2 separate regions of the Homo sapiens genome follow, and region 2 is reported to be linked to region 1. Evidence: microRNA targets listed by miRTarBase, many of them from high-throughput screens and not tested one by one. Region 1 holds a microRNA gene; the other region holds the end of a gene's coding sequence.

The links. The annotated mature microRNA hsa-miR-4745-3p reads UGGCCCGGCGACGUCUCACGGUC and lies in region 1 at 1,869-1,891, shown strand. An mRNA with a match to its seed (bases 2 to 7 or 8) in the 3' UTR can be bound and repressed. Matches are read on the target gene's strand: a 7mer-m8 pairs with bases 2 to 8, a 7mer-A1 pairs with bases 2 to 7 and ends in A, and an 8mer does both.
Region 2: the mRNA of ZNF704 is a reported target of hsa-miR-4745-3p. Seed matches in the 3' UTR shown: 7mer-A1 at 4,441-4,447.

Annotation. Positions count from the first base shown.
Region 1 is chr19:803,109-808,108 of GRCh38, forward strand. MIR4745 (microRNA 4745) reads left to right here and starts at 1,832; the gene lies at 1,832-1,893. PTBP1 (polypyrimidine tract binding protein 1) reads left to right here. Exons shown (of 15, transcript NM_002819.5): 3 at 453-528; 4 at 928-1,100; 5 at 1,184-1,330; 6 at 1,424-1,594; 7 at 1,721-1,831; 8 at 1,905-2,079; 9 at 2,384-2,461; 10 at 3,300-3,448; 11 at 4,761-4,794. RefSeq lists an enhancer at 127-649.
Region 2 is chr8:80,637,237-80,642,323 of GRCh38, reverse strand. It overlaps ZNF704 (zinc finger protein 704), which reads left to right. Exons shown (of 9, transcript NM_001033723.3): 9 at 847-5,087. The coding sequence ends at 958. Among named protein-coding and RNA genes, the nearest start is that of LINC02986, 100 kb to the right of the region's middle. RefSeq lists an enhancer at 789-1,988.

The DNA.
Region 1 (5,000 bases):
AGGACGGCTGCCTGGGCCCTGCCGTGTGCTGCTGGGGGGGCTGGCTCCATGGAGGGGGTCCTCTGCCCTGCTGGCTGGTGGCTGAGGCCCCAGGCCTGTGCCCAGGGCCGCTGGCAGCACAGTGAGGCCACGTCCACAGCAGAGTTGGCCGTGGAGATAGTGTACGTGGTGCCCTCCGTAGCTGAGAGCCTCCCAGCCCCACACTGGCTGAGTACCCAGGGCTTCCAGAATTTGGAAAAAGGAGCAGTGTTTTGGTCGTGGAGCTGTGGGGTGCCGTGCGCGTCCATGGGCTGGGTCTGCGCTCAGGCTGCCCTGCCGTGGAAGTGTGGGTGTGGGTATGGGTTGGGGGTCTGGGACCCCAGGCAGCCCAAGTGGGAGCAGGGCCGGCCGGTGGGGAAGGGAGGCTCTGGCCTGGTGGGAAGTGCAGCTCCGCGTTGTCCCTTCTCTTGCAGCGGGGATCTGACGAGCTTTTCTCTACTTGTGTCACTAACGGACCGTTTATCATGAGCAGCAACTCGGCTTCTGCAGGTAAGGCCGGGACTCGGCCCAGGGCAAGACCCGTGGGTGTCTTTCCCTGGAACAACGTTACGTTCTTGTTCTGGGACTCTACTTTCCATCTCCAACTGCAGGGGCCCATGGTCCACGCTACAGACCCAGGTCCAAGTTCTCGCTGCAGAGAATTTCCAGGGAGGCGCTGGATGGATGGTCCAGGCTGGCACTTGGACCTGTGGGCGGGTTGTCAGGAGCTGTCGGGAGCAGGGGTCCTGACTGTGCAGGTCTTGGCCTCTCGCGCTGCTGGTTCACATGCACCCTCCTGGGGCTCAGGGTTGGTCTCCGTAGCAGGCAGGGCTCTAGGGGGATAGCAGGGACCTTCCTCTGTGGGCTCCTGCGAGTTGGTGCCTGCATCTCATGGCACCCCCTTTTCAGCAAACGGAAATGACAGCAAGAAGTTCAAAGGTGACAGCCGAAGTGCAGGCGTCCCCTCTAGAGTGATCCACATCCGGAAGCTCCCCATCGACGTCACGGAGGGGGAAGTCATCTCCCTGGGGCTGCCCTTTGGGAAGGTCACCAACCTCCTGATGCTGAAGGGGAAAAACCAGGTACCTGAGCCGCGTTTCTCCGGGGTGCTCACACCGTGCAGGCGGGGACGAGGAGGGCCCAGCGCTCACTGCCTCCCCAACAGGCCTTCATCGAGATGAACACGGAGGAGGCTGCCAACACCATGGTGAACTACTACACCTCGGTGACCCCTGTGCTGCGCGGCCAGCCCATCTACATCCAGTTCTCCAACCACAAGGAGCTGAAGACCGACAGCTCTCCCAACCAGGCGGTGCGTGGCCCCGCGGCGGACCCCAGCAGCCCGGGGACCTCGGGGGTGGGCCCAGCCGCAGGGGCCGGGGACTCACGGCTGTGCCTCCCACAGCGGGCCCAGGCGGCCCTGCAGGCGGTGAACTCGGTCCAGTCGGGGAACCTGGCCTTGGCTGCCTCGGCGGCGGCCGTGGACGCAGGGATGGCGATGGCCGGGCAGAGCCCCGTGCTCAGGATCATCGTGGAGAACCTCTTCTACCCTGTGACCCTGGATGTGCTGCACCAGGTGAGGTGGTCCCATCACCGCCAGGGCAGGTCGGCTGCTATTGCTGTGGGCACAGGCACACGGGAGGGGCCTGGCAGGGCTGGTGGGCACCGGGCAGGAGCTCATGCTGTGGCCCGGGACCTGCAGATTTTCTCCAAGTTCGGCACAGTGTTGAAGATCATCACCTTCACCAAGAACAACCAGTTCCAGGCCCTGCTGCAGTATGCGGACCCCGTGAGCGCCCAGCACGCCAAGCTGGTGAGTGGGGCTCCCGGGACGGCGCCCGCCCTGGCCCTGGCCCGGCGACGTCTCACGGTCCCTCTCCCCTCAGTCGCTGGACGGGCAGAACATCTACAACGCCTGCTGCACGCTGCGCATCGACTTTTCCAAGCTCACCAGCCTCAACGTCAAGTACAACAATGACAAGAGCCGTGACTACACACGCCCAGACCTGCCTTCCGGGGACAGCCAGCCCTCGCTGGACCAGACCATGGCCGCGGCCTTCGGTAAGAGGCTGCCCGACGCGGCGCCAGTGTGCAGAGTGGTCTATTAGGGCCGCTCAGTCCGGAGCCCCGGCGGCACGGGCCCGGCCCTGCACCAGGGTGATGCACCTGCTGCTCTCTGCACGGCCAGCACAGCACGGTCCAGTGTCCCCCACGTCGGGACCACGGCCCCCCCTGGAGCAGCGGATCTGCCCGCGAAGGCTCTGCCGGGGCCGCCCGCCGGCCGGGTTGGGGCCCATCCCGCAGCACAGCGCCCGCTCGCGGTGGAGGTTGTGGGTGCGATGATTAGTGTCTCATTTATTTCTAGGTGCACCTGGTATAATCTCAGCCTCTCCGTATGCAGGAGCTGGTTTCCCTCCCACCTTTGCCATTCCTCAAGCTGCAGGTATTCAAACGCTTGGTCTTGGTTCCCCAGCGACTGCATGCCCACACCACCTTCCCAGGCAGCTCCGCATCCACGGCGGCAGCCTGGGCGGACTGGGCACTCGAGTGCCAGGTCAGGGGCCCTTCCCGGGAGAGGGGACGCCACGTCCACAGAGCAGGCTTGGCCAGGGCAGTGGTAGGACAGGGCTGTGGAGGCCCACGTGTGGACGGCGCCAGCCAGAAGCCGCTAATCGCACAGTCTTTGTGGTCTGGTTCCCTTCAAGCACCTCCGGGCGAGCGCGAGGACCGCCAGTGGTTGGAGGGATGTCTCTAGTAGTTGAATTTGAGTGGCCTGGTAAGCGCGCGGCCCGAGGCTGAGCAGCATGACCGGCGGCGGGACGTGTGTGCGTGGCCGTCCTCCCGCTTCCCTTCTGGGACCGGGGCCCGGCCGCCCCAGTGCTGGCCGTGGACGGAGCAGCGCGTGCCGCCCGGCGGCCGCCTCGTCTGCATGGAGGCATGGGCGCGCATGCGCGGTGGTCCCGGGACGGGCCCTGCTTGCCGAGGGCCCCGTGTCTGTGCTGGCGGAGCCGGAGCTTTTCTGTGCTGTGGGCGGGGCGCATGCAGATGAGCCCAGGCCCGGCCCGGCCCGTGCTGTGAGGAGAGGCGGGCGCTGGTGCAGGAGCCGGCGGGTGGCTGTGCGGGGGTCGGACGACCCCACAGGCACCCAGGGTAGGGCCAGAGCCAGGGCCGCCTCCCGCGCGGCTCGGCTCCTCGGTGCATGAGGACGGGGAGCGTCGGCCTCTCCCACTCTGCGGTGGAGTCGGGGGCGCCGCCGCTCATCTCACCTCCTGCTTTTCCAGGCCTTTCCGTTCCGAACGTCCACGGCGCCCTGGCCCCCCTGGCCATCCCCTCGGCGGCGGCGGCAGCTGCGGCGGCAGGTCGGATCGCCATCCCGGGCCTGGCGGGGGCAGGAAATTCTGTATTGCTGGTCAGCAACCTCAACCCAGAGGTACGTGGGCTTTTCCTCCGCGCCGCCGTTCCTCCCGGAAGAGCGAGCAGGGGATGTTGTGCTCGGGCTCGGGTCCCGGAGCAGCGCCGCCCCTCGCTGTGTCTGCGCCTCTGCCCTGGCAGCCCCTCTGCTGCAGCGCTGAGACCCTCCTTTTCCAAGATGGCTTGAGTTTTCCTCTTTTCCTGAATTCACATCTTGGTTCGCGTTTTCTCTTGCATGATACGCAGAATGAATTATTTTTTGGTTACCCAAAGGCAATCTAAAAATTACTTGGAGCTGAGCAGGGCGCGCAGTTCAGAGCCCCAGCAGGCCGCCCTGCTGGTCAGCGGGACACACAGGGTTAGCGCGGCGGGGTGTGGGCAGCCCCTGTGGCTCGAGAGCCTGTCACTTAACTGGTGGATCCGTTATTTCCCAGAATGGTTAAATTCCCCTCGGGGAGAGCTTGGGTGAAACAAGAGGCCCAAAATATGTAACTCTTGATGGATGGGATCCTCCTGGAATCAGCATTTCAGGCTGTTCTGTTTCCCGGCAACTCCTGTGACTTCCTCAAGGCGGTGCCCAGCCTGGCCCTCCCTCGCGGGGGCCCAGGACGCACTCCCTGCCTGTGCCTCTTACCACGAGCCGGGTGCTGTCCCTCCAGCTCCTCCTGAGCGAGGCCGTGCACTAACAGACTCGATCTCCCTTCACGCCTGTAATCGTCCTTAGAGACTGACTTGTGCCACAGCTGCGGGAGACAGCGCTGCTGCAGGGCTTGGCTGAGGTGGCCGCGAGCGGAGCTGCACGCGCGCTCCTGGGGGGCGTGGTTGGGATCGGCTTCTGGGAGCCCCTCCAGCAGCGCTGTCTCTGCCGGCATGTGAGTGAAGGTGCTTCTCTTACCGTGTGCCCGTCGAGGTAAACCTGTAACTGGAATGTGTGTGGAGTGTGACTGATAGAACACTACCTGATTCTTATGTATTTACTGACCTGTGTTTTTTTGCTACTTTTTTTCTTTTCTCCCCTTCCCCTTTCCCTATTTTTTTTCTTGCCCTGATCCGGAATTTCTTTGCCAACTGACTGCACGGTACTTCTGCTTCCTGTTGTTGCTTGAAACAAAACAAAAACATAAACAAATAAAAAACAAAAATTCCCCCTCAAACCCTGCTCTCCGGAAACCAACCTGCCCTTGAATATTAACATCCTGACAACTTCATCATCCATCAACCACTGCACGCCTGCGGGGACTGTCTTCCTCGTGTGGACGATTGGCAACTCGCCCCCCTTGACCTCTCCCTCTCCCCTGTCCCTCCGCTGCCTTGCTCTGCTGTCTCTAAAGAGAGTCACACCCCAAAGCCTCTTTATTCTTTTCGGTATGTTATCGTTCACACTTTTATTACCTTGTTTTCATTAATTGAGATGATTTTGATGCCCTGAGACGTATTATGAGTTTGCGGTTTGGCACTCTGATGCTCCGTGGCATCCGCCTCGTTTTATGGTTTGCTTTCGGTTTGCGAATTTTATTTGGTCCCGTAGATACGTACGCATGGTTTATCGCCCTGCATGCTTTTCAGAGTTA
Region 2 (5,087 bases), not on the chromosome of region 1:
CTATAAAGTGCTTCCTTTAAGTGAAAAGGTGAAAGTTTTCAACTTAACAAAGAAAGAAAAAAATTTTTATACTGAGATTGCGAAGATCGACAGTAAGAATGAATCTTCAATCCATGAAACTGTAAAGAAAGAAAAAGTCATGCATAATATATATATAGGGTTTGTACTATTTGCAGTTTGAGGCATCCACTGGAGGTCTTGGAACATATTCCCCACCCTTAGCAGGGACTGCTGTACTAGAAATTGAGAATGGTGGAAGCATTTGAAAGTACCTACTTAAAAACTTGAAAGAGCAATGTTGCTCTCTACTGGCATTTCTTGTGTTTACTTGTTTAATTCAGTTTTATGAAGATGCCCAAATGGACATGTCCACAAGTAGACAAATAGAAGCCTAAGGGATATGGTAGCAAATTTTAACAGTTGAGTGTAGTGGCTGTGAAAACAACCAGCACATATTAGAGTCTGAACCTAGAGAGAAGTCGCTGTCTCCCAGGCTGGAGTGCAGCGCGATCTTGGCTCACTGCAAACTCCACCTCCCGGGTTCAAGTGATTCTCCTGCCTCAGCCTCCTGAGTAGCTGGGATTACAGGTACATGCCTGGCTAATTTTTGTGTGTTTTAAGTAGAGACAGAGTTTCACCATGTTGACAGGCTGGTCTCAAACTCCTGACCTCTGGTGATCCGCCCACCTCAGCCTCCCAAAGTGCTGGGATTACAGGCATGAGCCACCATGGCCAGCCTTTTTTTTTTTTTTTTCCTCCCTCACTCTTGCAAGGGATTTTTGAGCTCTCCATAGAATGCCCATTGAATTCCTCCCACTAAACTAACCTTCCTCGTCTGTCTTACAGGAAGCCCAGGGGAGAGGGCAAAAAGTGTCGGAAGGTGTACGGGATGGAGAACCGAGACATGTGGTGTACCGCCTGCCGCTGGAAGAAGGCCTGCCAGAGGTTCCTCGACTGAGAGACCCCCAGGCAGAGGGGCTCAGGGCCCTGAGCCGCTCCTGCCCTGGCCTGCCACTGCAGGTGTTGGAAAGAGCTTTTCCTACTGAATAAAACACAGTTGAAGCCAGGAAAAGCCCTTTCAGGAACCTTGGAGGAATAACAGCAAAAACACAGAAAAATTGTTTAAGTCACCACCTATGACAAAAGAAAGTTGCTCTTACTGAGAACCCAGCTTGGAGCAGCTATAACTAGTTTTTTTTCCTTCAAAAGAAAAGTCAACTTTTTTTGCTGTATGTCTAGACTTAAAACTGTGGACTTCTGTAGCAATTGAACCAACAAAGCCCATTTTACCTAGAAAGGAGGCATATTTTGATAAGCTTTCTGAATTATGCCATTTTCAAGATTTTTTTGACACTTAAAAAACAAGCTACAGGTTATTCAGTAGCATTTGTACAAAGATCAATACTTACTTTTGTTGTGAATAATCTTTTCCGTATCTTCCATTTGACTTCTTGGAGCAGTATATGTCAGGATGTGTTGCAAGACAGCGCAGCACTCTGGGCATCTTTTCTATGGCTTTTTGTTTGTTTTTCTTTTAAGAATGGCCCCACACTGAACCATGGTAGAGCTATTAGTTTGTAGGGCCCCAGATGGCATAAACTCGAGAAGGGATTGTCCACGGAAATCACCAGCAGACTTCAGCCCGAAGCTGAGTTCAGGAAGTCCAGCTGTCACTGTTGGGAAACATCTAGGAGTCTTCCTTGGATCCATAAGAAGCTCTTCCCCTAAAGGCAGCACAGCTAACTCTACTCTCTACCTGCCACAACTCAGTCAAGAATTGGCACCTGTAGCCATCTGGGTAAGCCTCGATGCTTCTTTCAGGGATGTGACACAAATGGCAACTCGGAGCTATTTGTTACTGCTTGTCTGTCAAGATTGTAGCCAGGTTAATGGGTCATTTTCCTTCTCTCCAGACTCCACCACTGACTGATTTCAGAAGAGGTAGAGAACTCCAAACTGTCCCAGCAGGTTTGCTTTAGACAACAGAGCACAGCCCACATGGCCCTACCTGTTCAGAAAGTCATGTTAGATCAACAAACCACTTCCATTCTGAGTGCACTTTTATAGGTTTTATGCTTTAGCATGTCCGGGAGATGAGTTAATTAACAATATAAACATTATGTGAGTAAATGGAAGGTCCAAACTTTAAGTTTTTCTTATAAAAATATTGGAGCTATTCATTTAAGAATTTGCTCAAAAGGGAACATAACGCCAAAAGGAAAATGCATGTAGGTATAGGAATTTCTCAGTTTAGTAGGGCCAGGGCTTGCACTATGTTCCATTTATTGGGCTTCGTAACTTACTTGCTTGTTTGTTTGGGGGATAGTGGTGTGGGGAGAGGGGAGTCGTCAAGCCCTATAAATAAGCTCATTCTCTATCTACCCGACTCTCAATTGCCCTGCTAAAGAGTTATTTCTCCTATACCTATGCAAAGTAGGAAGAGCACCTTATAGGAGGCACTGTATAGGGACAGGGGACATGGGATCAGCCATAGGAATGTTAAATGAAATTGCACAGAGGAAAGTTTAATATATGTCTAGAGATTATACATACACTTTTTTAAGCGTAAAAAGAAGACATCTAGTAATGACAGATATTCTTTTTATATACAAGCAAAAGAAAGTATAAGGAGGTTCTACAGTGCAACATCCACAATCTGTGCATTCACATATTATGGGACTTTTATTTTTTAAACTCTCATATAAATTTTTTAAAATTACTCCTTGGAAGAGATCCTGGTTTTTTTCTTCATTTATTTTTTTCTTTAAAAACATTTATTTTAAGAGAAGAGAAAAAGAGCTTCATCTAATTTTGCATCTTGATTACCAATCAGTACTAGTCACAGCACCAGCAATACTGTATGTTTTAGACTGACAAGGTCAGCCAGGAAATGGCATTTTTTTAAACGCAGAAATGTGTTTGTTTCCTCTACTCTAACACGTCCTTTCTCCTCCTGGTGTCCTGTCACCCCCCATGCAGCACCACTGATGCGAGATGATGCTCTGGCCTGGTCCAGGAAGCCCTGAGCCATGGGCAGATTGCCCAGTGGCCTTGGGCGGCCAGAGCTTGTCACCTGTTTAAACAAGTTCACCATGTGTTTAAATGACAGGGTACAGTCCTGGACCAGAGGTTTTTCTCTTCAGCAAAGCTCCCTGGCCCTTGATCGTTGGACTGTTACTAATAGAAAAAGATTCAAGTCATGAAGTATAAAATCCATCCCCCATCCCAGAACTTTGAAACACAAGGAGGGAGAGATCTTTGCTATGGAGCAGTCCTGGAGCAAAGCCCCGTGGCTTCCACCCCCAGATATATACCCCATAAGTAGTGCTGAGCTCCAGCTTAGCTGAGCCAAGCTCAGTCCTTATCTGGTGTTCAGCCAGTGCACAGGTATAAGCAGAACTACAGAGCTGAATGTAGCTTCCCTGGGATCTCTTCTCCTTTCTAAAGCATTTTTCACACAGTTCTGTACCTCCTACCCAAGTTGGGGCTGCTTTCTGCCTGCTAGCCCACGGCTCTGTGTACTTTCTTTTCTGGCTTCAGGTGCAGACAGACCCTCAGTACCTTCCTGGACACAGACACATATTCCCTGGACCAAGGCGTGGAATAACTAGTAGACCACCAAGCCACAGGTGGCTGGTCTTGAAGAAAAGGGATTATACTCCTTACAGGCCACCCAGAAAGCTATGAATTCCAATATACACCACTGATCGTGCAAGTTAGGGTTTTTTTTTTTTAAACGTAGCATTATTTTGTTATATTTTGGAACTAAATGAAGTGCCAAATTAACCAGACATTCGTTTGATGCCATCTCTGTGGAACCAAGTTCTCTGTGTGTGTTCGTTTGGCTGGGAGGAGGGGGAGGACTGGGCAGACTGCTCCCACAGCAGGCTGGCAGTGGAACTGGAGCCCTGGCCACCGCAGGGAGCTCAGAGGCCAATCTACGCAAAAGGCATGCAAAACAATGGATTCTGGTCCCAAAATATTTCTAAGTAAGGCATGATGTAGCCTTTTGATTTTTTTTTTATCCTTTGACACCCCAGCCTTCAGAAAAGGTTTTTCATCTCTCTCCAAAGAAGTCATTTCATAGTGACTGACAGGACATTCTCCAGAGAGCGACAAAGCAGAGTGGCCAGCAGGCAGTGGTGTTAAGCCTTGGGCCTTCCCAGCAGATGTGTGCTGCATTGGTGGGTGGGAGGCAGTGTGACAGCCTGGAGAAAACACACAGGTAGCAAGGGAGTCAGGGGGGAGGTACAAGAGGGCTGTGGACACCTGGCTCTTGCTCATCTTCTTGGTGCTGATCAGCTGGTGGTCACCATCCCTAAGTACCTCCCAGGGAGCTGCCATTTTCTCCTCTGGGAGCAGCTGCCTGAAGCAAGGAGAGAATGACCTGAAGGGAAGTACCTCCGGCCAAGAGTGCAGGGCTGCTGTGCCTAGCCTGAGCGGGCCATCTCTAGCAGATATGGACTTCTCTCCACCACACTAGCTGAAAAGTTTTCTCCCTTGGTTGGCAAAAGCCAGTGTCAGGAAAAAAGCTGTGGGTTTCTGACCAAGAATGTGTGCGCTTAGCTGCAAAGTGCCTGTCAGCAGCTCCAGGCACCAACAAGGTGCCCTTTTATTAGACAATTCCTGCCCGAACATAACCATATTGCAGATGAAAATTTTCAATAGAGAATGACACAATTCTTGACCTTTCTAAAAACTTTTCAAAGAGATAGTCACATGTGTATATGTTGCAAAAGATTTTTGAAACTGAAATGTCCTCCATTAAATCTCAAGAGCACTCGAGTTTTAAGTCTGCTGTTTCTGGTGTCACACTAAGACACACTTTTGAAAGCAGCCCTGGGTTCTGAATTAGTTGGCACTGCTGAATCCATGTTCCCCCTTCATCAGACTCCAAAGTGCAGCATTCACTTGCAAAGGTTGAGAGAAAAGTGGCCAGAATTGTACATATAACAGAGAATACCTTGAGAATAGTAGCAAAATACTGTAAATAATATTCATTTCCTCAGGGAAAAATAAAGGGCATGCAAAAATAGGTCTGGAGACTCCTGAAACTAGGAAGAATTTTGTTATCACTAAAGTCTTTT